4 separate regions of the Homo sapiens genome follow, and all the other regions are linked to region 4. Evidence: fine-mapped expression QTL. A gene starts in region 4. Each other region holds a variant in brackets. All regions are shown on one strand. Distances are between the middles of the regions.

Region 1 (7,633 bases), 23 kb before region 4:
CCAGGGGAGTTTGGAGAAGGCCGTCTTGGTCCTGAACAAAGAGAAAAAAAGATAGGAGAAACAAACAAACAAAAAATCTGTCTTTGAGAATTTGTGGCTACTGATCAGTCCTGACTTGTACCTGGAACAGTCTGTGCTACCTGGAGGGGACAGCTGTGAACTTAGTTTGAGGAAGTCATTGAGTGATGAAACAGAAGCAAAATAGAAGGTCTCTCTGGAACTTGATATATCCATTCTGGGCCTTAGGGAGCACCTAAAATACATTTTCAAGGGTGATGACCAGCAGGAGGTCAAAGATAATAAACAAGAAAATAAGATAACATGAGAAAGAAACAGCAGAAACAACCAACTCTAGAAACAGATTCACACAGGCTTAGGATATTAGAATTGTCAGACAGATTATAAAAAGTACACTTAAAATATTTAAAGAAATAAATGAAAAGCCTGAAAAATATCTATAAGAGATAGCAAATGCTAAAAGTTGACCAACAAGTTTTAGAAAAATATCAATTAAAGTTTCTAGTAAATAAAACCTAGAATAACTGAAGTTATTCTAATAAGTTATTCTAGTAAATTTTAGAATTTACTAGAATAACTACTAAATATTATATTTACTAGTAATATAATAGTACTATTATAATAGTAATATTTATAGTGTTATATTAGTATATTCAACATCATATTAAATATAATATATATTATATTTACTAGTAATATAGTATTATATTTACTAGAATAACTAATAATTTTCTAGTAAATATTAGTTTACTAGAATAACTGAAGTTATTCAGTTATTAGAGTTTCTAGTAAATAAAAACTGGAATAACTGAAGTTTAAAGCTCAATGAATGCTGGGTGTGGTTCATGCCTGTAATCCCAGTGCTTTGGGAGGCCAAGGTGAGAGGAACCCTTGAGGTCAGGAGTTTGAGACCAGCCTGGGCAATAAAGCGAGACTCCATCTCAAAACAAAACAAAAAATTAGCCAGGTGTGGTAGCACATGCCTGTATTCTTAGCTACTTGGGAGGCTGAGGTTGGAGGATTGTTTCAGCCCAGGAGTTGGAGGCTGCAGTGAGCCCTGATTGTGCCAATGGACTTCAGCTTGGGCGACAGAGCGAGACTCGGTCTCTAAAAAATAAGAAATAGAATTCAGAAACAAATACTTTGTCATCTATAGACCATAACTAAATGAAAGTATAAGAGGTGTGTTTCTGGTAGAAAGAAAATGACTCTAATATAGAAGACCAGAGATGCAGAAAGAAATAATGAGTAACAAAATGGAACATATGTGGGTAAATATAAGTGTAAAATGTGGGTAAATATTAATGTACATTGGTCATTTAAAATGATAGTCATGATGTTTTGTTGGATAAAAACCATATGTAGGCAGGGTGTGGTGGCTCATGCCTGTAATCCCAGCACTTTGGGAGGCTGAGGCGGGCGGATCATGAGGTCAGGAGATCAAGACCATCCTGGCCAACATGGTGAAACCCTGTCTCTACTAAAAAAAATACAAAAGTTTGCTGGGCGTGGTGGTGTGTGTCTGTAATCCCAGCTACTCGGGAGGCTGAGGCAGGAGAATTGCTTGAACCATGCAGTTGGAGATTGCAGCAGTGAACTGAGATCACGCCACTGCACTTCAGCCTGGTGACAGAGCAAAACTCAGTCTCAAAAAAAAAACAACAAAAAACTACATGCATATGTGCAACAATGGCCATATGTCAGGTGTGTGTAAAAGGACTTAAAAGTGTTCTAAGGTCCTTGCATTGCCCAGGAGGAGGGTTAATGGATCAATTCACATTAGACTGGATGAGGCAATGATAAACATTATGATTTTGAGGGTCACTGCTAAATTACTAGAAAAAGATTGTTTAACATTCAAATTAGCAGAAACAAAAAATGGAATAATGAACTATATTAATCAGTCAGAAGGAAAGAAAGGAGAGGAATAGGTGTTAGAAAAGCTGAGACAGGCCGAGCACAGTGACTCACACCTGTAATCCCAGCACTTTGGGAGGCTGAGGCAGGAAGATCACTTGAGGCCAGGAGTTTGAGACCTACCTGGGCAACATAGCGAGACACGGTCTCTATATATTAAAAAAGAAAAAGAAGAACTGAGACAAATATAAGACTCATAATTCACAATGATAAAATGTCATTTTGGCTGGGTGTAGTGGCTCACACCTGTAATCCCAGCATTTTGGGAGGCAGGTGGATCACTTGAGGCCAGGAGTTCAAAACCAGCCTGGCCCACATGGCGAAACCCTGTCTCTGCTAAAAATATGAAAGTTAGCCGGGTGTGGTAGAACATACTCGTAAGCTCAGCTACTCAGGAGGCTGAGGCACAAGAATTGTTTGAACCCAGGAGGCAGAGGTTGCACTCTGTGAGCCGAGATCACACCACTGCACTCCAGCCTAGGTGACAGTGAAAGACTCCGTCTCAGAAAAAAGGCAATTTTCCAGGAAGATGTAATAATTCTAAATTTGTAGGCACCTACTAATATCGTCCTCAAAATAAAATGCTAAATCAACAGAACTAGAAGTAGAAATAGATGTGTCTATGATCATGGTGAGACATTTTAACATATTTCTTGCAGAAACTGACAAAATAGATCTACAGGCTTGTTGTTTGCCATTCTTTCTTTCTGCCTATTCTTTTCTTCCTTTCTCTTTTCTACTCTGAAATACAGGGAGCTACATGTCCTAGACTTTGGTTCAGCCGATAGGGGCATTCTCAGAAAACTAGCAGGTAGAGGGGGGAAAGCCATTTTCTCTCTACTTTGAGTGGTGTGTGTGTGTTTTCTCCACAGCCCCAGCTTCCACCTGGAAAAAATTAATTAACTAGAAAACAAGCATACAAAAGAGAGGATTAATGAAGCCACACATTGGTTCTCTGAAAAGACTAATGAAATTGATAAACCTTTTGTGATCCTGATCAAGAAAAAAGAGAACAGTCTCAGGAATATAACAGAGGCATCACTTCTGATCCTATAAATTCTAAAAACTAAAAAGAGGATATTATGGACACATTTTATATCAATCAATTTAAAAATTAAGGTGGAAATCCTAGGGAAAATACAAAAATGATACAAGAAAAAATAGAAAACTTGAAAAACTCCTCTAACTTTTAAAGTACCTGAATTCATAATTTAAAACTTCTCTTCAAAGAAAATTTAAGGCTCACATGGCTTTACTGGCAAGTCATATTAACATTTAAGGAATAAATAATTTCAGTCTTACACAGACTCCTTCGGGTAATAGAGAAAAAAGCATTTCCTTAATCACTACAGTAATGGAGCGTGATATTGGCTCAAGGTGGGAGGACTCGTTCTACCAGATACCAAGACTTACTAAAAAGTTAGAACCTGGGTGTGGTGGCTCATGTATGTAATTGCAGCTCTTTGGGAGGCCAAGGAGGAAGAATCGCTCAAGCCCAGGAATTTGAGGCCAGCCTGGACAAAACAGCGAAACCCTATCTCTACGAAAAAGAAAAAAAAAAAAA[A/C]CCACAAAAATTAGCTGGGCAAGGTGGTGAGTGCCTGTGGTCCCAGTGATTAGGAAGGTTGAGGTGGGAGGATCACGTGAGCCTGGGAGGTGGAGGCTGCAGTGAGTGGTGATCACGCCACTGCACTCCAGCCTGGGTGACAGAGCGACACCCTGTCTTAAAAAAATAATAGTAATAAAATAAATTTTTAAAAGTTAGTACTCAAGACAGTATGGTATTGGTGTTAAGATAGAAAACTAGACCATATTTAAACAATTTATGACAAAGATGGCTCTGCAGAGCAGCAGGGAAAGGAGAGCCTTTTCGGTTAAATGGTGCTGAAACAGAAAAGTTGGTATAGAGAAGTGGTTAGACAGGTGATGGAAATCTGAAAGATCAAAAAGAAGATGAGGTAACCCAGAGAAAAGTAACTCCAGTCTCTTCTAGCATTTAGGGAACAAATGTAGGGGAGGTGGTGCCACCAGAATCTAAGAGTGCAGAGAAAGGAGCTGGGCCCAGGGAGGAGGAACATGTTGCCAGAGCTTCAACTTTGAAGGAGGGGCCTCCACTTCAAAGAGGAAGAAGGAAAGACTGAGAAGAAAGGAAAAAGAAGAAAGACTTCTTTCTGCTGCCTTCTGATCTCCTGCCCATGTATCTCTTCTTGGAGAGCCTAATGGGAAACGATCAACAAGGAAGGCTGAGAAACATAATTCACAGGCCCCAGTCCCAGTGTTCACAAGCAGAAAATGGAAAGGTAAATTATCAGCACTAGTATCCATATGGAGAAATGAAAATTGACTTCTTTCTCATACCATACACACTATAACATCTAAATATTAAGGGCAAACAATGAAATGTTCAGAGAAAAAAATGTAGGAAAAATGTTTCACTGTCAAAGAGTAGACAATTTTTTTTTTTTTTTAGATGGAGTCTCTCTCTGTCACCCAGGTTAGAGTACAGTGGCACGATCTTGGCTCACTGCAACCTCTGCCTCCCGGGTTCAAGCGATTCTCCTGCCTCAGTCTCCCGAGTAGCAGGGATTACAGAGGTGCACCACCACACCTGGCTAAATTTTGTATTTTTAGTAGAGACGGGGTTTCGCCATGTTGGACAGGCTGGTCTCGAATTCCTGACCTCAAGTGATCTGCCTGCCTAGGCCTCCCAAAGTGCTGGGATTACACGTGTGAGCCACGGTGCCTGGCCTGACAAATATTTCTTAAACAGGTCACAAAAACCACTAACTATAAAGGAAACAATAAATTCAAGGACATAAAAATTAAGAATTTTTTTTTTTGAGTTTGGCTCTTTCCCCCAGGCTGGAGTGCAATGGCATGATCTTGGCTCACCGCAACCTCCACCTCCCAGGTTCAAGCAATTCTCCCGCCTCAGCCTCCCGAATAGCTGGGATTATAGGCATGCGCCACCACGCCCAGCTAATTTTGTATTTTTAGTAGAGACGGGCTTTCTCCACGTTGGTCAGTCTGGTCTCGAATTCCCGACCTCAGCCTCAGGTGATCTGCCCACCTCGACCTCCCAATGTGCTAGGTTACAGGTGTGAGCCACCGTGCCCGGCCTTTTTTTTTTTTTTTTTTTTTAAGAGAAAGGTTCTCATGTTGCCCAGGCTGATCTTGAGCTCCTGGGCTCAAGCAATCCGCCTGCCTCAGCCTCTCAAAGTGCTAGGATTACGGTGTAAGCCACTGCACCTGGCCCTGAAAATTAAAAACTTATGTCCACCAGAAGATGACATTGAATGAAGAGGTAAGCCAGAGAGTGGAAGATATTTGCCATATATGTGTCTGAGAAAGGACTTGTATCCAGAATACCTACTCATTTTTCTATTGAGTTGTTTGCTTTTGTCTAATCGATTTGTTAATTTATTACTTATCTATTTATTTTATTTTTATTTTTATTTTTTGACATGGAGTCTCGCTCTGTCGCCCAGGCTGGAGTGCAGTGGTGCGATCTCGGTTCACTGCAACATCTGTCTCCCGAGTTCAAACGATTCTCCCGCCTCAGCCTCCCGAGTACCTGAGATTATAGGCGCATGCCACCATGCCAAGCTGATTTTTGTATTTTTAGTAGAGACAGGGTTTCACCATGTTGGCCAGGCTGGTCTTGAACTCCTGACCTCAAGTGATCCACCCACCTCAGCCTCCCAAAGTGCTGGGATTACAGACATAAGCCACTGCACCCAGCCAATTTGTTAATGTATTTAAAAGTCAAGAATTGGCACTATAGGCCAGGCGTGGGTGACAAGAGCAAAACTCTGTCTCAAAAAAAAAAAAATTGGCACTATAAGCATGTTCCTTGGAACTATGGATGTAAATGCAAGGAGAAATAATTTTAGCACTCACCTTGGGTGGGATTGGGAAATGGAGTTTTTCTTTTCTTCCTTCCCCTCCCCTTCCCTCCCATCCTTGTCCCTTCCTTCCTTCCTTTCTTTTTCTTTCTAATAGGCTCCTGCTCTATTGTCCAGGCTAGAATGCAGTGGCATGACCAGGGCTTACTGCAGCCCCAGCCTCCTGGGCTCAAGGAATCCTCCTGCCTCAGCCTGCTGAATAGCTGGGACCACAGGTGGGTGCCACCATGCCTGGCTAATTTGTCATTCTTTTGTAGAGACAGCATCTCACTTTGTTGCCCAGACGGGTTGCTTTTCAGTTTGAGCTTCACAGCACTATTTTACTTTTTAAACCATTTTCATTTGTTGCTTTGGTAAGAATTAACAATTAGAAATCAATTTTAAAATTATTGAAAAAATAAAGAAAAATTGGCAGAATCAGATTAATGGAACACAAGACCAGAGAGAATCAAAACATACCAGTTAGAAGTTTAGGATCAAGTAAAAAGCAGGGCTTCCCAATGAAGTTAACCGATAATCCCAGCACTTTGGGAGGCCAAGGCAGGCAGATCACTCGAGGTCAGGAGTTCGAGACCAGCCTGACCAACATGGTGAAACCCTGTCTCTATTAAAAAAAAAATACAAAAATTAGCCAGTCATGGTGGCATGTGCCTGTAATCTTAGCTACTCAGGAAGCTGAGGCAGGAGAATGGCTTGAACCCGGGAGGAGGAGGTTTCAGTGAGCCGAGATCGCACCACTGCACTCCAGCCTGGGTGACAGAGCAAGCGAGACTCCATCTCCAAAAAAAAGAGAAGTTAACCAATATTTAAACAACAGGGAATTGTTACATGCATAGAAGAACAGATCAATGGAGCAAACTGCATAATCAAGAAACAGACCCACAGAAATGTAGAATTTAGCTTTAATGAATGCAGCATTTCCAACTGTTGGGAAGAAGAGAGTACTCAATATATGGTTTGGGGACAACAGGTTTTATATATTGGAAAAGAATTAAGTTAGGTTTCTACCTCATACCATCAATAAAAATAAATTCTAGGCGAAATATAGATCTAAAATGAAAATATCAAAAATTCTAAAAGCAAATATGTTGGAGGATTAAAAATTAAAATTCAGAGGGAGGAAAGTTTTCATAAGTGAGACACGAAAGGTTGAGATGAATATGGCAGCTGTTCAATACTTACAGGCTTTTTCTTCTTCCATTCTTCCATGACAAAACTCTTCTGTCTTGTGTGGAGCAGCTTGAGTAGTTTGAAATGCCTCATCCAGACACAGGAATGGATATACGATACACATCAGTCAGAGTGCCCAACCTGGTTCAAAGACTCTTCTGGAATTCCTACACCCAGTCTGTCATGACAGTCTCTCTCCCTTCCTTTGAAATCATGAACTATAAGAATATGGGCCATATTTCCAACAAGGTGAAGGGAACTTCAACAGAAAAGAAGCCCAGAGAACTGAGAGATTCAGAGAGAAATAGTTCTGTTTTTCTTTTTTTCTTTTTTTTTGAGATGGAGTCTTGCTCTGTCGCCAGGCTGGAGTGCAGTGGCACGATCTTGGCTCACTGCAACCTCTGCCTCCCGGGTTCAAGTGATTCTCCTGCCTCAGCCTCCTGAGTAGCTGGGACTACAGGCATCCGCCACCACACCAGCTAATTTTTGTATTTTTAGTAGAGACGAGGTTTCACCATGTTGGCCAGGATGGTCTTGATCTCCTGACCTCGTGATCCACCCACCTCGGCCTCCCAAAGTGTTGGGATTACAGGTGTGAGCCACCGCACCCAGCCCTGTTTTTCATA
Region 2 (7,633 bases), 46 kb before region 4:
ATCACAGCCCCAGTGGATACTTTGGCTGCAGAGAGACCATGATCTAGAACCAATTAGCTAAGTTGCTCCTGAATTCCTGACTCACAGAAACTGTTTGATTAAGATAATAAATATCTTATGTTGTAACAAGTCACTAAATTTGAAGGTAATTTGCTATTCAGCAATAGATAATTAATACAACAGTTCTATAAGGTAAGAATGAGGTATTATCTCCACTATACAAATAAGGAAACAGCCTCAGAAAGGTTAGGTGACTTGCCCAAATTAACTGTCAGAGAAGATTTTTTTCCCTTGACAAATAATTTACATTTTATGGCAATTTCCATGGAGAGGCTAGGTGCAGTGGCTCAATCCTGTAGTCTCAGCACTTTGGGAGGCTGAGGCGGGAGGACTGCTTGAAGCTAGTAGTTCAAGACCAGCTGAGGCCACATAGTAAGACCCCTGTTTCTACAAAAAATTAAAAAAAAATTTTTTTTTTTGAGACAGAATTTCGCTCTTGTTGCCCAGGCTGGAGTGCAATGGCGTGATCTCGGCTCACTGCAACCTCTGCCTCCTGGGTTCAAGCGATTCTCCTGCCTCAGCCTCCTGAGTAGCTGGGATTACAGGCACCTGCCACCACGCCCGGCTAACTTTTGTATTTTTAGTAGAGACAGGGTTTCACCATGTTGGCCAGGCTGGTCTTGAACTCCTGACCTCAGCTGATCTGCCCACCTTGGCCTCCCAAAGTGCTGGGATTACAGGCGTGAGCCACTGCACCTGGCCAAAAAATTTTTTTAATTTGAAATTTATATTTTAAATTTAAATTGCTCACACCTGCAATCTCAGCACTTTTGGAGGCTGAGGCAGGTAGATCGCTTGAGTTCAGTAGCTCAAGACCAGCCTGGGAAACGTGACAAAGCTCCATCTCTGCAACAAATACAAAAGAATTAGCCAGGCATGGTGGTGTGCGCCTGTAGACCCAGCTAATTGGGACGCTGAGGTGGGAGGATCGCTTTAGCCTGGGAGACAGAGACTGTGGTGAGCCAAGATCGCGCCACTGCACTCCAGCCTGGGCGACAGAGCAAGGCCCTGCTGTCTCAAAATATTAAATAAATAAATACATTTATTTCCATGGAGAAACAATAAAGAGAAACATCAAAACTCAGATGGCAAACCTCCTCAGCCCTTCCTGAACCTTTTTCCTCCCCAGCATTCCAACATTTCTCTCAAAAACTCTCAAGCCTGCCCAGCTTTACCTCTAGCCTCCCTCTTGCATTTCCCACTCAGCAAAGCAAAAAGGTGGCTGCATTCGAACTGAGTTTCGATTCCAGCTCTAACTTCAATGTCCATGTTCCTAACCACTCTGGTTCCCAGAAGGGTTTCTCTAGGAAGAAAAATAAGGGAAGGGCATTAGACGTAGAGAAAACAACAAATGCAAAGAAGCGAGGGTTTGACAGAATCTGGCTGCCTCTGAGGGAGTGGAGGGACAATGGTTCAGCGGGGCTAGAGAGCAAACTTCCTGGGAAAGGAGGTGGCAGGGTGAAGCAGGAAAGGAGTTCGTAGCCAGTGTGTAGAAACCCATAGGCCATGTCAACAATTTTGAATTTCTCTACAACAAAAAATTTTAGGCAGGGGAGAAAGTTGCTTGTGTCTGAATTTCCAAAAGACTCTTTAGGGAAAGAAATCATTGTATTAAAAAGAGACTTGCACTGGAATATTTATTGCAGCACTGTTCACAATAATCACAAAGACAGGGGATCAACCTAAGTGTTTGTCAAAGGAGAATTGGATAAAATGTAGTATGTGCATATACCATGGAATACTGTAATACTTAGCCATAGAAAAGAATGAAGTCATATCTTTTGCAGCAACATGGATGGAACTGGAGGCCATGATCCTAAGTGAAATAACTCAGGAACAGAAAGTCAAATGCCACATGTTCTCACTTATTAGTGGGAGCTAAATAATGTGTACATATAGACACACAGAGTGGGATAATAGACATTGGAGACTACAAAAGGTGAGAGGGTGGGAGAAGGGTGAGGATTGAAAAATTACCTATTGGGTACAATATTCACTATTCAGATGATGTGTACACTAACAGCCGAGACTTCACTGCTAAGCAATATATGCACGCAATAAAGCTGCACTTGTACTCCATGTATATATAATAGATAGTAAAATGTATTATATATTAAAAATGTATAATATATTAAACATATATAATATATTGTATATGTTATATATAACATATGTCATATATTATACAACATGTTAATCACATTAACATATAGTTATATATTATAATATATATTATCTAATATATTTTAATATATAATCTATAATATATTTTTATATAATTTGTTTTCCTAAATATATTTCACATATATTTTATATAATTATGTATTAATATATAATATATATTTATTATTATATATAAATATGTGTTTATATATATTACATATATATTTTTAAGACCATTCGGTAGCTTAGCAGACACTGTTAGTGCTCCTTGGCACTTACCATTTCCTTGCACGCTGGGTCAGGAGGCTAGAAGAGCTGGGGAATTAATGCCTGCTAGGAGCTGAGCTCTCAGTCAATGACTGAAGGAAGTTGCGTAAATACCCCAGCTTCTCACTTGTCAGGTAGGATAACTCTGGGACACACATTCTGTAGCTATTCTAAGGGTTTCCCAGCAGGATTAAGCTCCAGTTGCCCATTTGCTTGATAATGTGCAATCGACTGCTCTCCCTTCCTTGAATCTCTTCCCCACTCTGCTGCTCGTTTTCCTAGGATTACCTCCCACATAAGGTACTTGCACTCAAATCCTTACCTTAGGTCCACTACTGAGCAGCAGGAGGAGAGGGACTATGAACTAAAACAGACAGAATAAGAAGTAATATATACCATGATTATTAGAATGCTCATTACAACATTGATTCTTTCCATGTTACCCTGTGAATTAAATGCAATTTCTAACAAAATCCCAACAGAATATTTTAAAAGGAACTTTAAAAACTGATCCCTGGCAGGGTGCAGTGGCTCACGCCTGTAATCCCAGTACTTTGGGAGGCCGAGGTGGGCTGATCACCTGAGGTCGGGAGTTTGAGACCAGCCTGACCAACATGGAGAAACCCCGTCTCTTCCAAAAATACAAAATTAGCCGGGCATGTTGGCGCGTGCCTGTAATCCCAGTTACTTGGGAGGCTGAAGCAGGAGAATCGCTTCAACCCCAAAGGCAGAGGTTGCAGTGAGCCGAGATTGTGCCATTGCACTCCAGCCTGGGAGACGGAGCGAAACTCCATCTAAAAAAAAAAAAAAGAAAGAAAGAAAGAAAAAAACCCCCCGCTCCCTAAGGTCATTCATAGGAAAGTTCTTTGCGGAAAAGATGAACAAGGAGAGAGAACTTGCCCTACCAGATAGCAGGATTTACTATAAAGCTATTAGCCATTAAGATTTACTACAGGCCGGGTGCGGTAGCTCACGCCTGTAATCCCAGCACTTTGTGGAGGCGGGTG[C/G]ATCACCTGAGGTCAGGAGTTCAAGACCAGGCTGGCCAACCTGGTGAAACCCCGTCTCTACTAAAAATAAAAAAAATAGCTGGGCATGGTGGCGGGTGCCTGTAATCCCACCTACTCAGGAGGCTGAGGCAGGAGAATCACTTGAACCCAGGAGGTGGAGGTTACAGTGAGCTGAGATCACGCCACTGCACTCCAGCCTGGGCAACAGAGTGAGACTTTGTCTCAAAAAAATAAAAATAAAAAAGAGATACCATTATACCCATTAATTTGAGAAAAGAATTTTAAGTTTGATATTATTTAATGTTACCAGGAGACCAGCTTGGCCAACATGGTTAAACCCTGTCCCTACTAAAAATATAAAATTAGCTGGGCGTGGTGGCGGGCACCTGTAATCCCAGCTACCTGGGAGGCTGAGGCAGGAGAATCGCTTGAACCTGGGAGGCAGAGTTTGCGGTGAGCCATTGCACTCCAGCCTGGGCGACAAGAGCGAAACTCAGTCTCAAAGAAAAGGTCAAATATACAGAGACAGAGAATAAAAGCGGCTACCAGGGGTAGGGTGATGAGGAAGAGATTGAGAGAGATGTCAAAGGATCCAGAGTAGCAAATATGTAAATTGAACAAATTTCAAGATCCAATGTGTGATTCCATAAGGAATATAGTTTTTTGGTTTTGGGGGTTTTTTTGAGACAGAGTCTCACTCTGTCACCCAGGCTGGACTGCAATGAAGCAATCTCAGCATTTCAACCTCTGCCTCCAGGGTTCAAGGAATCCTCCTGCTTCAGCCTCCCAAGTAGCTGGGACCACAGGTGTGTACCATTATGCCCAGCTAATTTTTGTATTTTTACTAGAGACAGGGTTTCACCATGTTGCCCAGGCTGGTCTTGAACTTCTGGGCTCAAGCGAGTCTCCGCCCTTGGCCTCCCAAAGTGCTAGGTTTACAGGCATGAGCATTTGCGCCTAGCTGAGGACGACAATTAGTAATTTATTTTATCAGGATTTTTGCTAAATGTGCAGAGTATAGTTGCTCTTGCCACTGTGGGAAAAATGGGTAACTATGTGAGATGATGGCTACGTTAATTGGTTTCACTATGATAAATATTTTACTATCTATATATACATGTATCTCATAACATTACGCTGTACATCTTAAATATTCACAATAAAATTCATTAAAAAAAGAATTAGGATAGGCAATTCACAGATGAAGAAACTCAACGTATGTAAATATGCTCAATATCATTAACAATGAGGGAAAAGACAAGTTAAAAACAATGAGATGCCGGCCAGGCACGGTGGCTCATGCCTGTAATCCCAGCACTTTGGGAGGCTGAGGCCAGTGGATCACGAGGTCAGGAGTTCGGGACCAGCCTGACCAACATGGTGAAACCCTGTCTCTACTAAAAATACAAAATTAGTTGAGTGTGGTGGCAGATGCCTGTAATCCCAGCTACTCGGGAGGCTGAGGCAGGAGAATCGCTTGAATCTGGGAGGCAGAGGTTGCAGTGAGCCGTGATTGCGCCACTGCACTCCAGCCTGGGCGACAGAGCAAGACTGTCTGAAAAAAATTAAAAAAAAAAGAGATACCATTATATCCATTAATTTGAGAAAAGAATTTTAAGCTTGAGATATTATTTAATATTGCCAGGATATGGAATGGGAACTCTCATACACTTCTGTGGAAAGTATAAATTGGTATAACCGCTTTGGACAGCAATTTTATAATATGTGAAGTAGAAGATACATTGGCTGGATATGGTGGCTCATGCCCATAATCCTAGCATTTTGGGATGCTGAGGCAGGAGGATTGCTTGAGCCCAGAGTTAGAGAGCTGCTAGAGACTAGCAGCCTAGGAAACATAGCAAGACCCTGTCTCAAAAAAAAATTAAAAAGATACATATATGTCCCTAAAACCCAGAAATTCCACGTCCAAAGAAACTCTCAGCTGGGCATGGTGGCTCACGCCTGTAACCCCAGCACTTTGAGAGGCCAAGGCAGGCAGATTGCTTGAGGTCAGCAGTTCGAGACTAGCCTGGGTAACATCAGGAAATCTTATCTCTGCAAAAAAATACAAAATTAGCTTGGCGTGGTGACATGTGCCTGTGGTCCCAGGTGCTCAGGAGGATAGTTGGAGCCCAGGAGGTCGAGACTGCAGTGATCTGTGATTGTGCCACTGCACTCTAGCTTGGGCGACAGATTGAGATACTGTCTCAAAAAAAAAGAAGCTCTTGCATATGGAAACATGTGAAGTAAAACCAAAGATGTTTATCCATGTTCTTTGTAATAGTGAAACTGGTGGGGAGCGGGCGGGGCAGGGGGCAGGGATTTAATATCCATCAAGGGGGTCTCAAATGTGAAACATAAACCAAACATGGAAGAGTTATACAAGGTAATATTATACAATTAAAATGAATGAATATGGTTGAATCTTAGAAACACAGGGTTTAATGAGCTACAAAAGAATATTTATAATTTGACACCATTAATATAAATTAAAATAAACATAACCAAAACAATACTATGTACATAGCAAAGGTATAAAAACCATGAGTGGTTGTTCAGACTGGGAAGGTGAACTCAGTAAGTACATTTTCATCTGCAATTTTTTATTATTTAAATTTTATTTATTAATGTTTTTAAGAGACAGGGTCTTGCTCTGTTGCCCAGGCTGGAGTGCAGTGGTATAATCATAGCTCGCCGAAGCTGCAACCTCCCAGACTCAAACAATCCTCTCACCTCAGCCTTCCGAGCAGCTTGGACTACATGTGTGCACCACCACACCTGGCTAGTTTTTAAAATTTTTGTAGAGATGGAGTCTTGCTATGTTGTCCAGGCTGGTCTTGAACTCCTGGGCTCAAGCAGTCCTCCCATCTCAGCCTCCCAACATGTTGGGATTACAGACGTGAGCCACCATGTCTGGCCTCAATTTTTATTTCCTTAAAAACAGGTTTGATACAAATATGACAAAAATATCAACATTTGTTCATTTGGATGATTGGTACCCAGGTGTTTGTTATATTGGCCTTTTTTCTTATCAGCATATTTAAACTTTTTCAAATAAAGGAGTACTTCTAAATCACTACAAAAATATAAACACCCCCATCAAAAATGGCCAAATGATACAAAAAGCTAATTTGTTGCTAAAAAAGGGTCTTGATCCAGACCCCAAGAGAGGGTTCTTGGATCTCATGCGGGAAAGAATTCAGGGTGAGTTGTAGAGGACAGTGAGAAAAGACCATTTGTTAAAAGCTACTCTTACAGAATTGGGGGTTCTCAGGAAACAGGAGGAACGTGCTTACTTTTAACCTCTTCTTATATAGGAGTCTTGTCTATGTAAAAGGTAAACTAAATTATGGTTACGTGCAGGTGGGCTGACAGCATGACAAAATTTAGTACTTTGCTGATTTAAAGAAGGCTATCCTTGGCATTTTAGTGCATCACTTAAAAAAATATATTGTTATGTGATATTGGGACGTGTGTACATTCTGCCATTGCAGGAGTTTGTCCTTGCAAAAAAATACAAAATTAGCTTGGCATGGTGGCATGTGCCTGTGGTCCCAGATGCTCAGGAGGATAGTTGGAGCCCAGGAGGTCGAGGCTGCAGTGATTCGAGGCATTTTAAAGCTTTCTTTCTTTCTTTTTTTTTTTTTGAGACGGAGTCTCTCTCTGTCACCAGGTTGGAGTGCAGTGGTGCAATCTCAGCTCACTGCCACCTCTGCCTCCTGGGTTCAAGCAATTCTCCTGCCTCAGCCTCCTGAGTAGCTGGGACTACAGGCGCACGCCACCATGCCCAGCTAATTTTTGTATGTTTGGTAGAGACGGTGTTTTACTATGTTGGATAGGATGGTCTCGATCTATTGACCTCTTGATCCGCCCGCCTAGGCCTCACAAAGTGCTTGGATTACAGGCCTGAGCCACTGCGCCCTGCCCATTTTAAAGCGTTTTTAAGCTGTTTCCTCAACTGTAAACATCTTATGACCACCGGCCGGGCGCCCACCACCACACCCGGATAATTTTTGTATTTTTAATAGAGTTGGGGTTTTGCCATGTTAGCCAGGCTGGTCACGAGTAGCTGTGATTATGGGCGTGCGCCACAGTGTCTGGCTAATTTTTGTATTTTTAGTAGCGACGGAGTTTCA
Region 3 (7,633 bases), 35 kb before region 4:
GCACCCTCTGCGGCCCCAGGACAGACCTACTGACTCTCAGCATTTGCTCTACCAAGGATCATAACAGGAGGCCAGTCGAGGCTGTAACCCTGCTTAACCATTCTGCACATTACTCTTAACTGGATTCAAGCAGGGCCATTCTACATGGTGGCCTCCTTCCAGAATCCCAAATATGGAATAGATCAAATGCCTCCTGCCCTTGAAGCCCAGTTGAATTATCAAACTACCTCTGCTTCTTCATGATTCAGTCTAGAACAGAGAGACTAGGGCCCATGTATTCCATAGTCATTCTCTGCTACCTCTCCCTCATTTTCTTCTCCATCATACCCTCAGGCCTAGGCCTAGGTTTTGAAAGCACACTATGGAAGAAATGCTCCAACCTCAGAGTCTTCATATGTCAAATGAAAACTAAAGGAATTTAGAAAACGATTTTCCTCTTGACAACATCTTGCTTTGGAGCCTATTGATTTGCAGTAAAACTCCATTGTGAATGTCCAAAGCTGCAAAAAAAAAAATTCCTCTTTGCTTATCCCCTGCAATATATCAAATCCTCCCCACCACCTTGATGGAATGGATAAGTTGTGATAGACATAGAGATATGCGGCCCAGATCTCCCTTCAGGGAAGAACTTGCTGCCTGGCTGCAGAGAATGTGGTCAGTCCCTCCAAAGGTAGCCAGTGTGCAATGACTGAGTCGGGTGGAGGCATAAAGACCTCCCTCTTTGGGGTCAACATGGGACACTTTAATGAGCAATTCTCACTCAAAAACTCCCTGCCGTGTTGGCTGAAGCTTTATTAGGCCTGCATCACAGTTTAACTTCTTCCTCTCCCTAGTTTGGCTTCTGCCCCCTTCTTTTCCATAATAAGCGTGTTTTGTTTGTTTGTTTGCCTGCTTGCTTGCTTTTTGAGACAAGGTCTTGTTCTGTCACCCAGGCTGGAATGCAGTGGCATGATCACGGCTCATTGCAACCTTGACCTCCTGGGCTCAAGTGATCCTCTCACAGAGTTGGAATTACAGGTGTGAGCCACTACACCTAGTCTTTAAATCTTTAAAGATTTGAAGTATGGAATTGGAAAAGAGGAGACAAAATTATCTAGATTTTCAGGGGATATCAACATATACTTGTAAACTCCAAGGAAACCTTGTGGTGGATAGAAAATACTCATTTCCACCCTCTCCAGAAACCTCACTAAAAAGGTGGTAAAGAGTTCTCTTAAAGATATAAAAGACAAAGATAAAGGATATGAACAAATTGTACATATAAAAAATGTTGAGCTGAGTGTAGTGGCTCACACCTGTAATCCCAGTACTTTGGGAGGCCAAGGCACATGGATTGCTTGAGCCCAGGAGTTCAAGACCAGCCTCATCAACATAACAAGACCCTGTCTCTACAAAAAATTTTTTAAAAAATAGCTGGGCATGGTGTCACATACCTATAATCCCAGCTGCTCAGGAGGTTGAGGCAAGAGAATTGCTTGAGCCTGGGAGGTCGAGGCTACAGTGGGTTGTGTTGGTGCCATTGCACCCCAGCCCTGGTGACAGAACAAGATCCTGTCTCAAAAAAAAAAATATTAAATGAAAAAAGCAAGATGGAGAACACTGTACCTAGCATGCTATCATTAGTATAAACAAAAGACAGGTAGAGTCTGGATAACTGAGGGGAGCAGGAGGTCCCCAGGAAGGCCTGTTTTCCAAGGAAAGAGGAGGAACAGAGAGGACAGTGAGGGTGAGGGCGGCTGCTGTCTCCTAAATCTGTCACCTCCCCTTCTCTGCTTTGGCAGCCATTATGTCCATGGGTCTCTGGCTTGTCTTGTGCAATACTTCCTTGTGTTAAACTCCAAGATATCAATGGGCTGATGAGAGTTCCAGCGTGAGCTACGTGACTGGATGGGTGCTTGGAATAAGAATCCCATGCCCCAGAGAGCAAGACCAGCAAGACAATACTGACTAAGCCACTTTCCCCTGTAAGCCACCCTGGACCCACTTCTCAGTCCTAAGGACTAATGACATAAACTGGATGATGGTCACATAAAAATCTTGGTGAGATGCTGGAAGTCTAAAGTGGTCCCTTTGGGATCATAATGTAAGAAAGTGGCTTCAAGGCATATTTCAGCATAGAGTAACCTTGGCATTGGAAGCACTTTGCAAAAACATAAGAGGCCATGCTAACTCTTTTCATACAACAGAGGCCTGGCAGGTGACATTTCCAGAGGGAGAATGGAAGATTCTGAGAGCACTGCACAAGAGTCTCCCTTAGACACTTCTAGAACATATAGGAGGCTGTGGTAGAAGGGAACTGAAAGTTCAAAGTGTTGATCATGTGCACTGACTAAGCCTTTGTATTTAAAATCAAGATGACATCATAACGGCCTGATTTTCTTTCTTTCTTTCTTTCTTTTTTTTTTTGAGACGGAGTCTCGCTCTGTGGCCCAGACTGGAGTGTAGTGGCGCAACCTCGGCTCACTGCAACCTCTGCCTCATGGGTTCAAGCGGTTCTCCTGCCTCCCCAGGTAGCTGGGATTACAGGCATAAGGCACCGCACCTGGCCAACCTGATTTTCTTAAAAATAAATCTGGGTTTAGATTATTGGTAGAAACATTAAGTGATGTTGTGTCTTCTCAGTGCAACACACCAGTCAATTTTCACGTTGATGGTGATGCTAAGTGTAATCTGATGGTCAACGTGGTGACCTTCAGCTCTCTCTGTGGTAAAGATACGTTTTCCCTTTTGCGATTACTAAACAGCCTGTAGGGTGATACATTCAAACCTTATGAATATCATTTTTCCCAACCCCCTTTATCCTAAT[A/G]GTTTTACATTCCATTGATGATGCCTGCCTGAATCAATTATTAATAGACTGGTCATAAAATGATGATTTTTCCATTTCTATCATTCCATCTACATTCACAATTTGGCATTCTTTTATGAAGAAGAGCTTTCTTTTCTTTTTTTTTTTTGAGATGGAGTCTCACTTTCTTGCCCAGTCTGGAGTGCAGTGATGCCATCTTGGTTCACTGCAACCTCTGACTTCCAAGTTCAAGCAATTCTCCTGCCTCAGCCTCCCAAGTGGCTGTGATTACAGATGGGCATCAGGACGCCTGGCTAATTTTTGTATTTTTAGTAGAGATGGGTTTTTGCCATGTTGGCCAGGCTGGTCTTGAACTCCTGACCTCAAGTGATCCACCCACCTCAGCCTCCCAAAGTGCTGGGATTACGGGTGTGAGCCACCTCACCTGGCCCTCTTTTCTACCCCCTTTAAAATTTTTGGTGTTGGCCAGGTGCAGTGGCTCACGCCTGTAATCCCAACATTTTGGGAGGCTGAGGTGGGAGGATTGCTTGAGCCCATAAGTTCGAGACCAGCCTGGGCAACATAGCAGGATCTTGTCTCTATTAAGAAAAATAATAATAAAATAAAATACCATTGTTGGTTGTTTTATTTATTTATTGTGGTGGTTGTTGTTTTGAGACAGAGTCTCTCTCTGTTACCCAGGTTGAAGTACAGTGACATGATCATAGCTCACTGTAACCTCGAACTCTTGGGCTCAACTGATACTCCTGCTTTGGCCTCCCAAAGTGCTGCGATTACAGGTGTGAGCACAGGCCAAAATTTTTGGTGTTAATATCAATAGAGACACATGGATTCCTTTTGATTCAATATATAATAATCCATTCCTGCATTATTCATATGAGGCTGAGATTGTCCCAGATTTTGACATGAGGGCCTCCATAAAAATGTAGATTGCAAGCCACCTTCTCCCTCTCCTCCAGTGGGGCCTGGGATTCTGCATATATAACTACCACTAAACTAAAATCTGAAACACCCACTAAATCTGAAAAGTTGAGGAAAAGCCCTTGCCAAGGACCAGCTGAGGAGTTTATGTTAAGAGTGGTTTCACACCCACCAGGCAATACAGCTAGAACTTGACAAGGGCATCCTCTGAGGCAAAGAAGGCCAGAATGCCAGCAAACGAAGATGCATCTTCTGGAGGTGGAAGGGGGTGAGGAAGAAATGGAGAGGTCAGGGCTGGAAAGGAGATGCTTATGGTTTTTTTCCTGCCTTGGGAAGACTATAGCAGACAAGATACCTATTAATTCTTGCAACATTACAGCAATGGTTTTTCTGAGTAATAGGAACAGTTTGCTTCTATCCCCAAAGATGGAGAGCTCTTTGCTATTTGGAACCAAGTGTTGATATAGTCAGGAAAAGACCTGGATCAAGGGAGTGTATAAAGCACACAAGTGCACACTGTCACTCTTGCTGAACACTCCTGGTGAAATGTAGAAAAGACATGAAAGAGGGAAAGTAATACATCTACAGCAGCATCAGGAAACTGAAAAGCCAAAAGGCCAGGCATTTGATGAAAGTCCTGGACAATAGAGAGCAGGAGGAAATGTGGGATCAAAAAAGCAGAACTGGGCCAGGCTTGTTGGCTCACACCTGTAATCCTAACAATTTGGGAGGCTGAGGCAGAAGGATTGATTGAGGCCAGAAGTTTAAGACCAGCCTGGGCAACATAGTGAGACCCTGTCTCTACCAAAAAATAATATAAAATAAAAATTTTTTAAAAGTGGGGAATTGAGTCCATGCATTTGGGCCTACGTCCTCTCCAAACCTCACTAAAATAACAGTTAAAAAATAAAAAGGACAAAACTCACAAGGACAAAAAGAACAGACATTGAAACAAGATTGAGCTAGTGATGTCGAGAATAAATATTTCAGATGTTCTAGGCCAGGCATGGTGGCTCAGGCCTGTAATCTCAGTATTTTGGGAGGCTGAGGCAGGTGGATTGCTTGAGCTTGGGAGTTTGAGACCAGCCTGGACAACATGGTGAAACCCCATCTCTACCAAAAAAAAAAAAAAAATTACAAAAATGAGCCAGGCGTGGTGGCACACACCTGTGGTCCCAGCTACTCAGGAGGCTGAGATGGGATGATAGCTTGTGCCTGAGAGGTCAAGGCTGCAGTGAGCCATGAACACGCTGCTGCACTCCAGCCTGGGCAACAGAGTGAGACCCTGTCTCAAAAAACCAAACAAAACACATATTTCAGACATTCTCACCTGACACAGGTATTAAAGAGGAAATGATTCCACACTTGGGAAAATGGCAAAATTATGATTGCCTAATTCCTGAGATCTTAGGGGAACACTTTTTCAAACCCTGTTTCAATAAAAGCAGAACCTGCATCCTGGGAATTTACCCTCATGGGACACACCAGGGGAATGAAATTCCATTGCCACAATGTATGTAATCAATCCATAATGATTGAAGAAACAGACAGTTTTATGGTTCTATAAAGTTACAGTTTAACTTTAGAGACTAATAGGTTCTATGTTTTTATAGCCTGGTATAGTTTAACTTTAGAGACTAATAGGTTCTATGTTTTTATAGCCTGGTTGTGTGGTTAAATACAATGATTTTATTGCCCTGTGGAAAATTAATCAGTCTTGAATTTTACCCAGCAAATTGTCCTTGGAATTCCTTTAACTCTAGCTCTGTTCGTTTGTGCGAGCACACGAGGGTACACACACACACACACACACACACACACACACACACACACACACACAGAGTTTTTCTTTTTTTTTTTTTGAGACGGAGTCTCGCTCTGTCGCCCAGGCTGGAGTGCACTGGCGCAATCTCGGCTCACTGCAAGCTCCGCCTCCCGGGTTCACGCCATTCTCCTGCCTCAGCCTCCCGAGTAGCTGGGACTACAGGCGCCCGCCACCACGTCCGGCTAATTTTTTGTATTTTTAGTAAAGATGGGGTTTCACCGTGTTAGCCAGGATGGTTTCGATCTGACCTCGTGATCTGCCCGCCTCGGCCTCCCAAAGTGCTGAGATTACAGGCTTGAGCCACCATGCCCGGCCTCTTTGACATTTCAGTGTGTGAGTCCATCAGAGCATAACTGTTATTATCTTTCTTCTCTTTTTTTATCTTTGAGATGGAGTCCTGCTCTGTCGCCCAGGCTGGAGTGCAGTGGTGCAATCTCGGCTCACTGCAACCTCTGCCTCCCAGATTCAAACGATTCTCCCGCCTCAGCCTTCCGAGTACCTGGGATTACAGGTGCATGCCACCATGCCAAGCTGATTTTTGTATTTTTAGTAGAGACAAGGTTTCACCATGTTGGCCAGGTTGGTCTCAAACTCCTGACCTCAAGTGATCTGCCCTCCTCAGCCTCCCAAAGTGCTGGGATTACAGGTGTGAGCCACCATACCCTGCCATAACTGTTATTATCTTGAAAGCATGTGTTTTTATGGGTACTGGGACATCTGAACTCTCTGACGGAGGAGTGCGTCCTCGTAGGTGTCTTTATGGTCTTTCCTCAACTATAAACATCTGTAATCATGGGTAGTGACTGGCAAGGAATGTGCCCTGTTAGTCTCCAGATGGAGCTGAACTTTTAATTTGGCTCTTCTAGGCTCCTGCTTCCCTAACACAAAGTCACAAGTTTCTGCATTGAAAGGTCTTACCAGGAACCTAGAACAATGAATTAATTAAAAAATATCCACACAGGCTGGGCACAGTGGCTCACGCCTGTAATCTCAGCACTTTGGGAGGCTTAGGTGGGAGGATTCCTTGAGGCCAGGAGTTTGAGACCAGGCTAGGCAACATAGAGAGACCCCATCTCTACAAAAAATTTAAAACATTAGCTAGGCATTGTGGCATGTACCTGTAGTCCTAGCTACTTGGGAGGTTTAGGCAGGAGGACTGATTTAGCCCAGGAGTTTGAGGCTGCAGTGAGCTATGATTGTGCCATTGCATTCCAGCCTGGCGACAGAGTGTGACTCTGTCTCAAAATACATACACACACACACACACACACACACACATACGCACACACAGAAATTAGTATGAATTCATATTTATGTGTGTGTGTGTGCATATACACACACCCACAGATGAGTAAATACAGAAATAACTTTAGAAATAAATGTGTGTCTAAATGGATTAGTATACACATACATATTATTCTAACCCTCTGCTAAGAGATCCAAGAGCAGTGACACCCAATAAAACAAGCACATCCAGTGCCCAGATCTTGGTTTCTAAACCAAGAATGGTTTCTAAATACCATTCTCTGATTTTAAAAAACCAGGGCTTCTTGAAAAAATGACTGAAGCTATTTCAAGGCAAGGAAAATGCAAGATGAGCCCAGAGCACCTGATAGACCAGAAGGCAAGGAAGTACTCAAGAAAAAAAAAAAGTCAGAGGGATACCACAGCCAACTCTGAGGAGTTTCCAATGGCCAAAGCCAGACCAATTTGGGAACCAAAATAAATAATGTGGTATTGGATTGTAACCCAAAGTGTAAATAAGTATAGATGAGGCCATATTTACAGAGAGAAAATGATTGAAAAATAAATGACAGAAAAGGGACAAATTTCCTTATAGAAGAATTTCAAATAACATAAGTAGCTATGCTCTCCACCTTGCAAAAAGAAGTTTACTTCTTCTCCCCAACCCCTTTGAGGGTAGGCTGGACTTTGTGGCTCACTTCCAAATAACAGAATATGGAAGTGGGAAAAATGGTAACTGTGTGATGGAGAAACCTGGAAATACCACCTTAACCAAGTGATCATGGTTAACATTATCAGTAATAAGAGTATATTACTTGTGCTATTCTTCTCGAAAT
Region 4 (7,633 bases):
CTGAAAGAGATGTGTGTACAAAATGCTGCTCCCTTACCTCAAAGTGGAATCAATTCTATGGTACAATTCATGCTCTAGGGCTCTCCATAGGATCAGGCTGAAGCTCAACTCTAGATAAGACCAGACCACATCTTTTCTCAACCCCCTCCTGGGCTCTATCTTGCTTCCTTCACTGTGTTTCTTCCGAGAGCAATCTTCCAATGAATTATGCACTCAGATCCTGTTTCAGGGTTCTGCTTCTAGGGAATCTGACCAAAGACACTGCATGAGTAAAAGCCAAAAATTATAAAATCCATCTATGTCCATGACTTGGAGACAATGCAAGCAAAGAAACAGGAAGAGATGACATGAAATCAGAGAAAGGGCCAAGGTGAGTAAGATGCCTTACTTAAGTGAAAAAGAATAGGCATAGGCACCTTCAAACCATCCTGCACTAACCTAGTGGAGACAAACCCTTTTGGTCATGCAGTTGGCAAGAACAATGTTATTTTAGTGTCTGGACTTAGAGTAATTTGTATCAAAGCCTGGGTATTCTTTGCCACTGGCATTACAGTTTCTGGGACCTGGAAATGACCACCATGACAAAGACCAGTGGAAAAAAAGGGATTTCAGGCAGAACTGCTGCAGAATCTTGCTGATAAGGCACTGGGGTACAACAGAGGCACTTCTGAAGCTACGGTGACTACGGTGACCTCCTTCATGAGAAGCAACTGGACAATGATACTAGTGTATTACATATAGATGACTAGTTGTAGATTATACATTTATATACAATTATACTGTCGTTCTTAATTCTTAATCAAGTCCACATCACAAGACTTATTCTTGTCCTTGGAGGAACCAGGGTACAGAGTATTCTGGTAATTTATTATTGTGTAACGAACTGTCCCCAGTTGGCTCATTTATTTGCTTATGTATCTGCAGTTTGGGGCGGGTTCAGCAGGAACAACACCCCCCTGCTTCATGATTGGGGCCCCAACTGGGAAGACTTGAATGGCTGGGGGCTGGCTTCCTCACAGCATGGTGGTCTCAGGGTAGCTGGACATCTTTTATGGCAAGTGTTCCAAGACACTTCAGGAGGAAGCTGCAAGACTTCTTATGACCTAGCATAAAGTCCCATTTCTGGGACCTCAGAAATCCCAGTACATCACTTCCACCATAGTCTATCAGTCAAGCAAATCACTAAGGCCAGGCTAGATTCAGAGTGGGGTGGGGGTGGGGGTGGGGGTGGGGCCGGGGCCAAGGGTTAGACCTGATCTCTCCATAGAAGGAATGTAAGAGAATTTGCAGCCATCTTTAATCTATCACACAGACATAGAATGTGTAGGGGACTTTTTGATAAACGCAGTAAAGGAAAAAGAAGATAGCAGGTAAGATTTTGTTTCTTTGTTTATTTGTTTTTAGAGACAGGGTCTTGATCTGTTGCCCAGGCTGGAGTGCAGTGGTCCAAACATAGCTTACTGCAGCCTCAAACTCCTGGGCTCTGTGATCCCCCTGCCCCAGCCTCCCAAGTAGCTGGGACTACACATGCACGCCACCACATCTGACTAATTTTTTAAAAAATTTTTTGTAGAGACAAGGTCTCACTATGTTGTCCAGGCTGGTCTCAAACTCCTGGCCTCAGGTGATCCTCCCACCTTGGCCTCCCAAAGCACTGGGATTACAGGCATGAGCCACTGCACCCAGCGTGTTTGTTTTTTAAGGACAAAATAATTTGAGCATGTTTGAAAGCTAAGGAAAAAGAACCAGAGAAGAGAGTAGATTAAGGAAGTAAGAAAGAATGTTTGCTGCAGCAAGATTCTAAGGCTTCAGAGTAGCAATATCTAGTCTAGGGATTGCTGTTCTTCAGATGCACACCTTTTCTGTTATCCCTGAATGTTGGTAAAATCATGTGAAACTTCACAGTGTGGGTTCAGTCTTGCTGTGGGGAGGGAAGGGAAGGAAAGGGCTGGTTCACTTCTGGCCTGGAAGATTAGGGGGAGCAATGTCTCCTACAGCTAGGGCATGGCCTATGCCAGCCTCCCCATCTGATGGGGTCCTGCCAGAGGGTAGGGCCATGTCTTCAATTTCAAAATCCTACATGGCAAAAACATAACCTGCAAACCAGAATGTCAGTGCTAGGGCCTAGGCCGAACAATAGTTTTCCTGTAGGAATGGGGAGTATGTGTGGATGTAGAGCTGGGGGTAAGGCTTTTGTGCAATTCAGCTTCACCAGGCTTGAAGAAGATGCAGTGAGGACAGTCAGGACCTGAGTATGAGAGTGGGACCTGGGTATGAGTGTGGAAATCCATCTTAGAACCTTAAAATTCCATACTCTGAGGTAAAGCTGAGAGGCTCCACAGGTCTATGAGGGTTTTTCTTTGTTTCCCAGGGACTGTAAGGTGCCCAGATTCTGAGGTAGGTGCCATAGGAATATTCCTCATAGCACAAGCATTATGTCGGACAATGTTCTGCTTATCTATTACTGAGTAACAAACCTCTCTAAAACTTAGAGGCTTAAAATAACATAAATCATAATTTATGAAAAATTATAAATAATTCATCACTTAAGGGTTAAATGATAAATGAGTTATTTCTTAGGATTTTGGATAAGTCACAGTTAGGAAAGACCTGTTACTGTTGTAGGTAACATGGAACAGCCCAGACGGTTGGAATAACCCAACCCAGATAGCTTCTTCACTCAATGACTGATCCCTTAGCTAGGATGGCTCCACCAGCTGAGCGGCCCAGCTCTCCCTCTCCAAGTCCAAGTGGTCTCTGCACATGGTTTCTCTCCAGCAAGGTGGCTAACGGGGTGCAGCTCATGACCACCAACAGCTCAAAATCAAGGCTGCCAGGTCTTTTTTTTTTTTTGAGACAGAGTCTCGCTCTGTCCCCCAGGCTGGAGTGCAGTGGCGCGATCACGACTCTCTGCAACCTCTGCCTCCTGGATTCAAGCGACTCTCCTGAGTAGCTGGGATTACAGGTGTGTGCCACCACGCCCGGCTAATTTTTGTATTTTTTGTAGAGACAGGGTTTCACCACGTCGATCAGGGTGGTCTCGAACTTCTGACCTCGTGATCTGCCCGCCTCGGCCTCCCAAGGTGCTGGGATTACAGACGTGAGCCACCGTGCCCGGCCAAGGCTGCCAGGTCTTTTTTAAGCTCAGAGCTAGAAACAAGACATTGCTACTCCTACCAACTTCTTCTATTGGTGAAATTGAGTCATGGTTTCTCATGGTCTCAATCATGACCCAGCCCAGATTCCAGGGTCAAGGACCATAAAAGGCTACATTGATGGAAGACATGTCTCATTGAGGGACACCAGAGTAACAACTACCAGACAAGAAGGGGCAGGTCTGTGTGAGCGCCATTTCCTAATTCTATATTGCCCACTCTTCAGAGAAGATGGTTGGAGGGCAAATTGTGGGGAGCAAGGTAACTCCAAACTTTTACAGAATTAAAGGTAGGGGGTCTGGTCAGCTACAGTCCATCTGTTATCAAGAGGCCTGGCTGTGTGTCTTCATTCAGTTTATTAGGCATTTACTGAGCACAGCCTACATGCCAGGTTCTTCATTTTTTGACACAGGGTCTTGTGTTGCCCAGGCTGGAGTGCAGTGCTGCGACTGCGGCTCACTGCAGCCTTGACCTCTCCAGACTCAAGCGATCCTCCTGCCTCAGCCTCTGGAGTAGCTGGGGATACAGGCGCGCACCACCATGCTCGGCTAATTTTTGTATTTTTAGTAGAGACAGTGTCTCACCCTGTTGGCCAGGCTGGTCTCGGATCCCAGAGATCAAGTGATCCGCCTGCCTCAGTTTCCCAAAGTGCTGGGATTACAGGCGTAAGCCTCCGCGCCCGGCCTATGCCAGGTTCTACATGTGTTCTTTCTTGACTCTTGTGTTACAGAGGCTCGAATGAAGCCTGGCTTCTACAGTACCGCACCCAGCACCTCGCTGCGATGCAGCCTCCTGTACCCTTTCCGTCCGGCAGCTGGAGTTAGGGCAGAGTGCCGGGTCTCTAGGAGGGCAACACTCAACGCAGTCGGCTCCTAGGCATCCAGTGGGGCTGCAACCCCGCCGCCGGGGACGAAAGGCGAAGGGGGAAAACTAGAGCTTTCGCCGGCCGGGACAGCGCAGCCGGGTTTCAGCTCGTTCTACGGTCCACGTCAGAAGATCGCCTCCGGCGCCGCGGACGCCGGAGACCACTGTCTGCGCCCCCGCACGCACGCACCCACGTACTCGCGCACGCGCGCGCCGGCCCCGCCCACCGCCCCGCTGTGGCCCCTTTGGACCGCACGAGCCACCGTCCGCACAGCCCCGCCCCGCACGGCCAGGCGAAGCGGAGCCGGCCGTGCGGTGTGTGTGTATGTGTTCGCGGGGCGCCGTCTCAGCCCCGGGAAGATGGTGGCTGCAGCGGCGGCAACTGAGGCAAGGCTGAGGAGGAGGACGGCGGCGACGGCAGCGCTCGCGGGCAGGAGCGGCGGGCCGCACTGGGACTGGGACGTGACCAGGGCTGGGAGGCCGGGGCTGGGGGCCGGGCTGCGCCTCCCGCGGCTGCTGTCTCCACCGCTGCGGCCACGGCTGCTGCTGCTGCTGTTGTTGCTCTCGCCGCCGCTGCTGCTGCTGCTGCTGCCCTGTGAGGCCGAGGCCGCGGCGGCGGCGGCGGCGGTGTCGGGCTCAGCCGCAGCCGAGGCCAAGGAATGTGACCGGCCCTGTGTCAACGGCGGTCGCTGCAACCCTGGCACCGGCCAGTGCGTCTGCCCCGCCGGCTGGGTGGGCGAGCAATGCCAGCACTGCGGGGGCCGCTTCAGGTGAGTGGCGGGTGGTGTCGGAGGGTCGGGTCCAACCAGAGGCTGGGGCTGAGGGGCGTTCGAGACGGCTCCAGGTCAGAGGGAGATGCTGGACAGAAAGTGGAGAGGGTAGGGCCGCCCTATGGGGTTTGAGGGCCATTTGCTTCCGGGGAGATCATCGTCTCTGGCCTGGGGTCTTTCTCTGTTGGAAGGTGAAAAGGTGTGGGGCAAGGGTGGGGGCACCCCGACGGTATTTGGGTGCTTAGGTTAGTTAGATGGGAAGAATGCTGAGGGACCCAAAGAGCATCAAAGCCGATCGCTCTAAAACTCGGCGTGTTTCAGCTAAACGAGGTATCCAAGGAAAGGTGGTCGAGCCAGGTTTGCTTGAACACTTCCTTTTAACATCCACATGTGCCCTAGGACCCGATGAGTTCCCCGATGCACTGGAGATGTGGGGTGCTCTGAAGAAACAGGGCCCTGGAAATGCTTTGTTGGCTGGAGATAAAAGGGAAAGGGTAGCATTGTAAGATATTAGGGATAGAAGGACCAGTGGTCCTTCTAAAGGAAAGTGAGGAAACTAGCCTTTTGGCAAAAGCTCCCTGGAGGTGGCAAATTGGAATAGGGTCTGTGGTGAAGAGGGAATGGAAGGAGATTCCTATTTGCCTTGGTTTCTGGACAATATGAAGTTCTGAATTGGCTTAGTTTGGGGCAGTTCCTCTTGGAGAAATCAATAAATTAATTAGCAGTTATCGTTATTTGCTTCAGTTGTGCAATGATTTTCCAGATAATACAGACAGATTAGCCAGACTTTGGCCTTGTCCACAGGGAGTTTGGAATATAGCAAGAGAAAGATAATGTGCGCACATAACCCTAGTCATAAGGGTTACAGAGTCATTCACGCCTTTGACAGGTATTTAGCTTACTGAACACATGTCTGATGTGGGGGAGTGGGGAAATGTGAACAAGACAGACAGGGCCTCTGCTCTCATTGACCTTAACATTCTAGTGGGAGCAACAGGCACTTAACAAGTAAATAAATGAGAGAAATAAACATGGTAATTTCAGGTAATGGTAAATGCTATCAAGAAAATAAAAACAGCGTGGTCTGATAGAGAATTATAACCGGTGGTGACTCTTGGAGAGGGTTCTCATTTGAAATGACATTTGATCTGAGACCTGAATGAGGCAACAGGGAACTTGTGGGAATTCAGGGATGGAGAGGTTGTGGCTAGCTGGAGGGATGCAAGGAGGACTTTGAGGAGGCGGTAACATTGGATTTGAGCATGTAAGGTTAAGTAGGATTTGGAAATGTGGAGCTGGAAAAAAATTACAGATGGAAAGAAGGGTGCAAACAAAGTTGTGGAGGCTGGAAAGTAAAGTTTTGCTGCTGCCTATGTGGAAGAGAGTTGTGAGAGAGGAGTTTGGAATAGCAAAATTGTAGACTTAGGTAATATTAGGTCTTCTGAGGAACTCAGAGAACGTTGAGCAGATGAGCTCTTTAGTTTTATGGATGGAGAAACCAAGTTACTTCAGGACCACTGATGCAGTGAAGCTGCTTTTGTAACTTAGGGTGTTCTGATTTATGAATTCCATTAACCTACATGTATTTGTTGAGGGCTCCTATGTTTTAGGTTGTGAGATACAGTGGTATACAAGACAGGCACAGTCCTGCTCTTACGGAGCTCACATTTCAGCTTGGGAGTAAAAAAATCCAACAAAAATTTTATTGTAATTTTGTTTAAGGCTGTGGAGGTAAAGAGCAGGAGACAAACAGAGGACTTGACTTAGTCTAGGGGTAAGGTAAGTCACTGAGGAAGCGATGTGAAGTCTGAGGGGTGAGATGGTACTACCTGCGTGAGGGGTGGGGTGCTGAGGGGCCAGCAGGTACAGAGGCTTGGGGTTGAAGCGGATGGAAGGCCAGGTGGCAGGAGCAGAGAGAGCAAAGGGGAGCTTGGCAAGACTGGAGAGAAAGGCGGGAAGCCAGGCCAAGTGGAGATCTGTGGGTTGGATTGAGAATTTTGACCTTTAGCCCAAGAGCTGTGAAATGGCGTAGTTCACGCCTATTTTCATGACATTATAGGCTTTTAGATTGGAGCCAGAATACAAATGGCCTTGAAGGTGAGGCCAGGGCATTTTCCATTTGAGAAGCTTCCAAGGTCAGGTGAATGGATGGTTGAGTCAGACGAGGATCCTTCAAGTTCTGAAAACCTGGGACACTGTGGTAGGCAGTGGGGACCAGCGGTGTGGGAAGGGGACTTCATAGCAAGATCAATCTGTAATGTTCAGAGTAGGTACACTCACTTTGGGCATGAGAGATAGGGGGCAGCTAGGTGGGATCTGTTGGCATGGGTCAGAGCAGTGGTAATGAGAGCTTGTAGAGGTGAAATGGACAAGTCTTCCGTGTAAACTGGTTTGCTCTTGGAAAGGTGGGGGATGGTGAGGGAAAGAAAACTAGATCCTGTCTTGGGTGGTTGAGAGGACAGTGATACCATTAACAGACACAGGGACACAGGAGCAGGTGTTAGACATTTAATTGCATGCATGCTGAGTTTGGGGTGCTCTCAGAGTACACACCTGGCAGATGTTAAGTTTGGAGTCATCGACCTATGAGGGAGATTGCCAGGGAGCTCTCTCTGAGAGTCCACATGGAAAGCCCAGAGGATTGGATAAGAGCTACTTGTTGCAGGGAACAGGCAGTCCTGACACTGGTTGTCTCAAATAGTGTCACAGGTGAGTGAAGGGACTCCCCTGCTTATTGTGGACATTCCCTTTGAGCTGATTCTAGGTGATGTCAGTGCTGTTTCCTGGGTAGACAATTATGACTTTGGTCCTGATGATACCATTATATTTTGTGGGCTTTGGGAT

Which allele goes with the higher level. Alleles are on the strand shown, and positions count from the first base shown. SD is a standard deviation of normalised expression in the study named. Not every link is listed here.
In carriers of allele C in region 2, the expression in macrophages of the gene that starts at base 4,290 in region 4 tends to be lower than with G alone (large effect, 0.83 SD a copy in Alasoo 2018).

Evidence for each region. PIP is the estimated chance that this variant, and not a neighbour inherited with it, causes the effect. A credible set is the group of variants that fine-mapping cannot tell apart.
Region 1: its variant is the best candidate, but not a certain one, in a credible set for the expression of ATRN in nasal epithelium (TOPMed, PIP 0.69).
Region 2: its variant is the best candidate, but not a certain one, in a credible set for the expression of ATRN in macrophages (Alasoo 2018, PIP 0.55).
Region 3: its variant is the best candidate, but not a certain one, in a credible set for the expression of ATRN in blood mononuclear cells (TOPMed, PIP 0.82).

What each region holds. Positions count from the first base shown.
Region 1 is chr20:3,443,526-3,451,158 of GRCh38, forward strand. No RefSeq gene overlaps it. Among named protein-coding and RNA genes, the nearest start is that of ATRN, 24 kb to the right of the region's middle. The variant A/C (reference allele first, on the strand shown) is at 3,500.
Region 2 is chr20:3,420,716-3,428,348 of GRCh38, forward strand. It overlaps LOC105372508 (a long non-coding RNA gene), which reads right to left. Exons shown (of 3, transcript XR_937212.3): 2 at 1,236-1,363. It overlaps LOC105372509 (a long non-coding RNA gene), which reads left to right. Exons shown (of 3, transcript XR_001754709.1): 3 at 1-73. Among named protein-coding and RNA genes, the nearest start is that of DNAAF9, 17 kb to the left of the region's middle. The variant C/G (reference allele first, on the strand shown) is at 3,498.
Region 3 is chr20:3,432,113-3,439,745 of GRCh38, forward strand. No RefSeq gene overlaps it. Among named protein-coding and RNA genes, the nearest start is that of DNAAF9, 28 kb to the left of the region's middle. The variant A/G (reference allele first, on the strand shown) is at 2,807.
Region 4 is chr20:3,466,729-3,474,361 of GRCh38, forward strand. ATRN (attractin) reads left to right here and starts at 4,290. Exons shown (of 29, transcript NM_139321.3): 1 at 4,290-4,789. The coding sequence starts at 4,380. RefSeq lists an enhancer at 3,877-4,016 and a silencer at 4,117-4,676.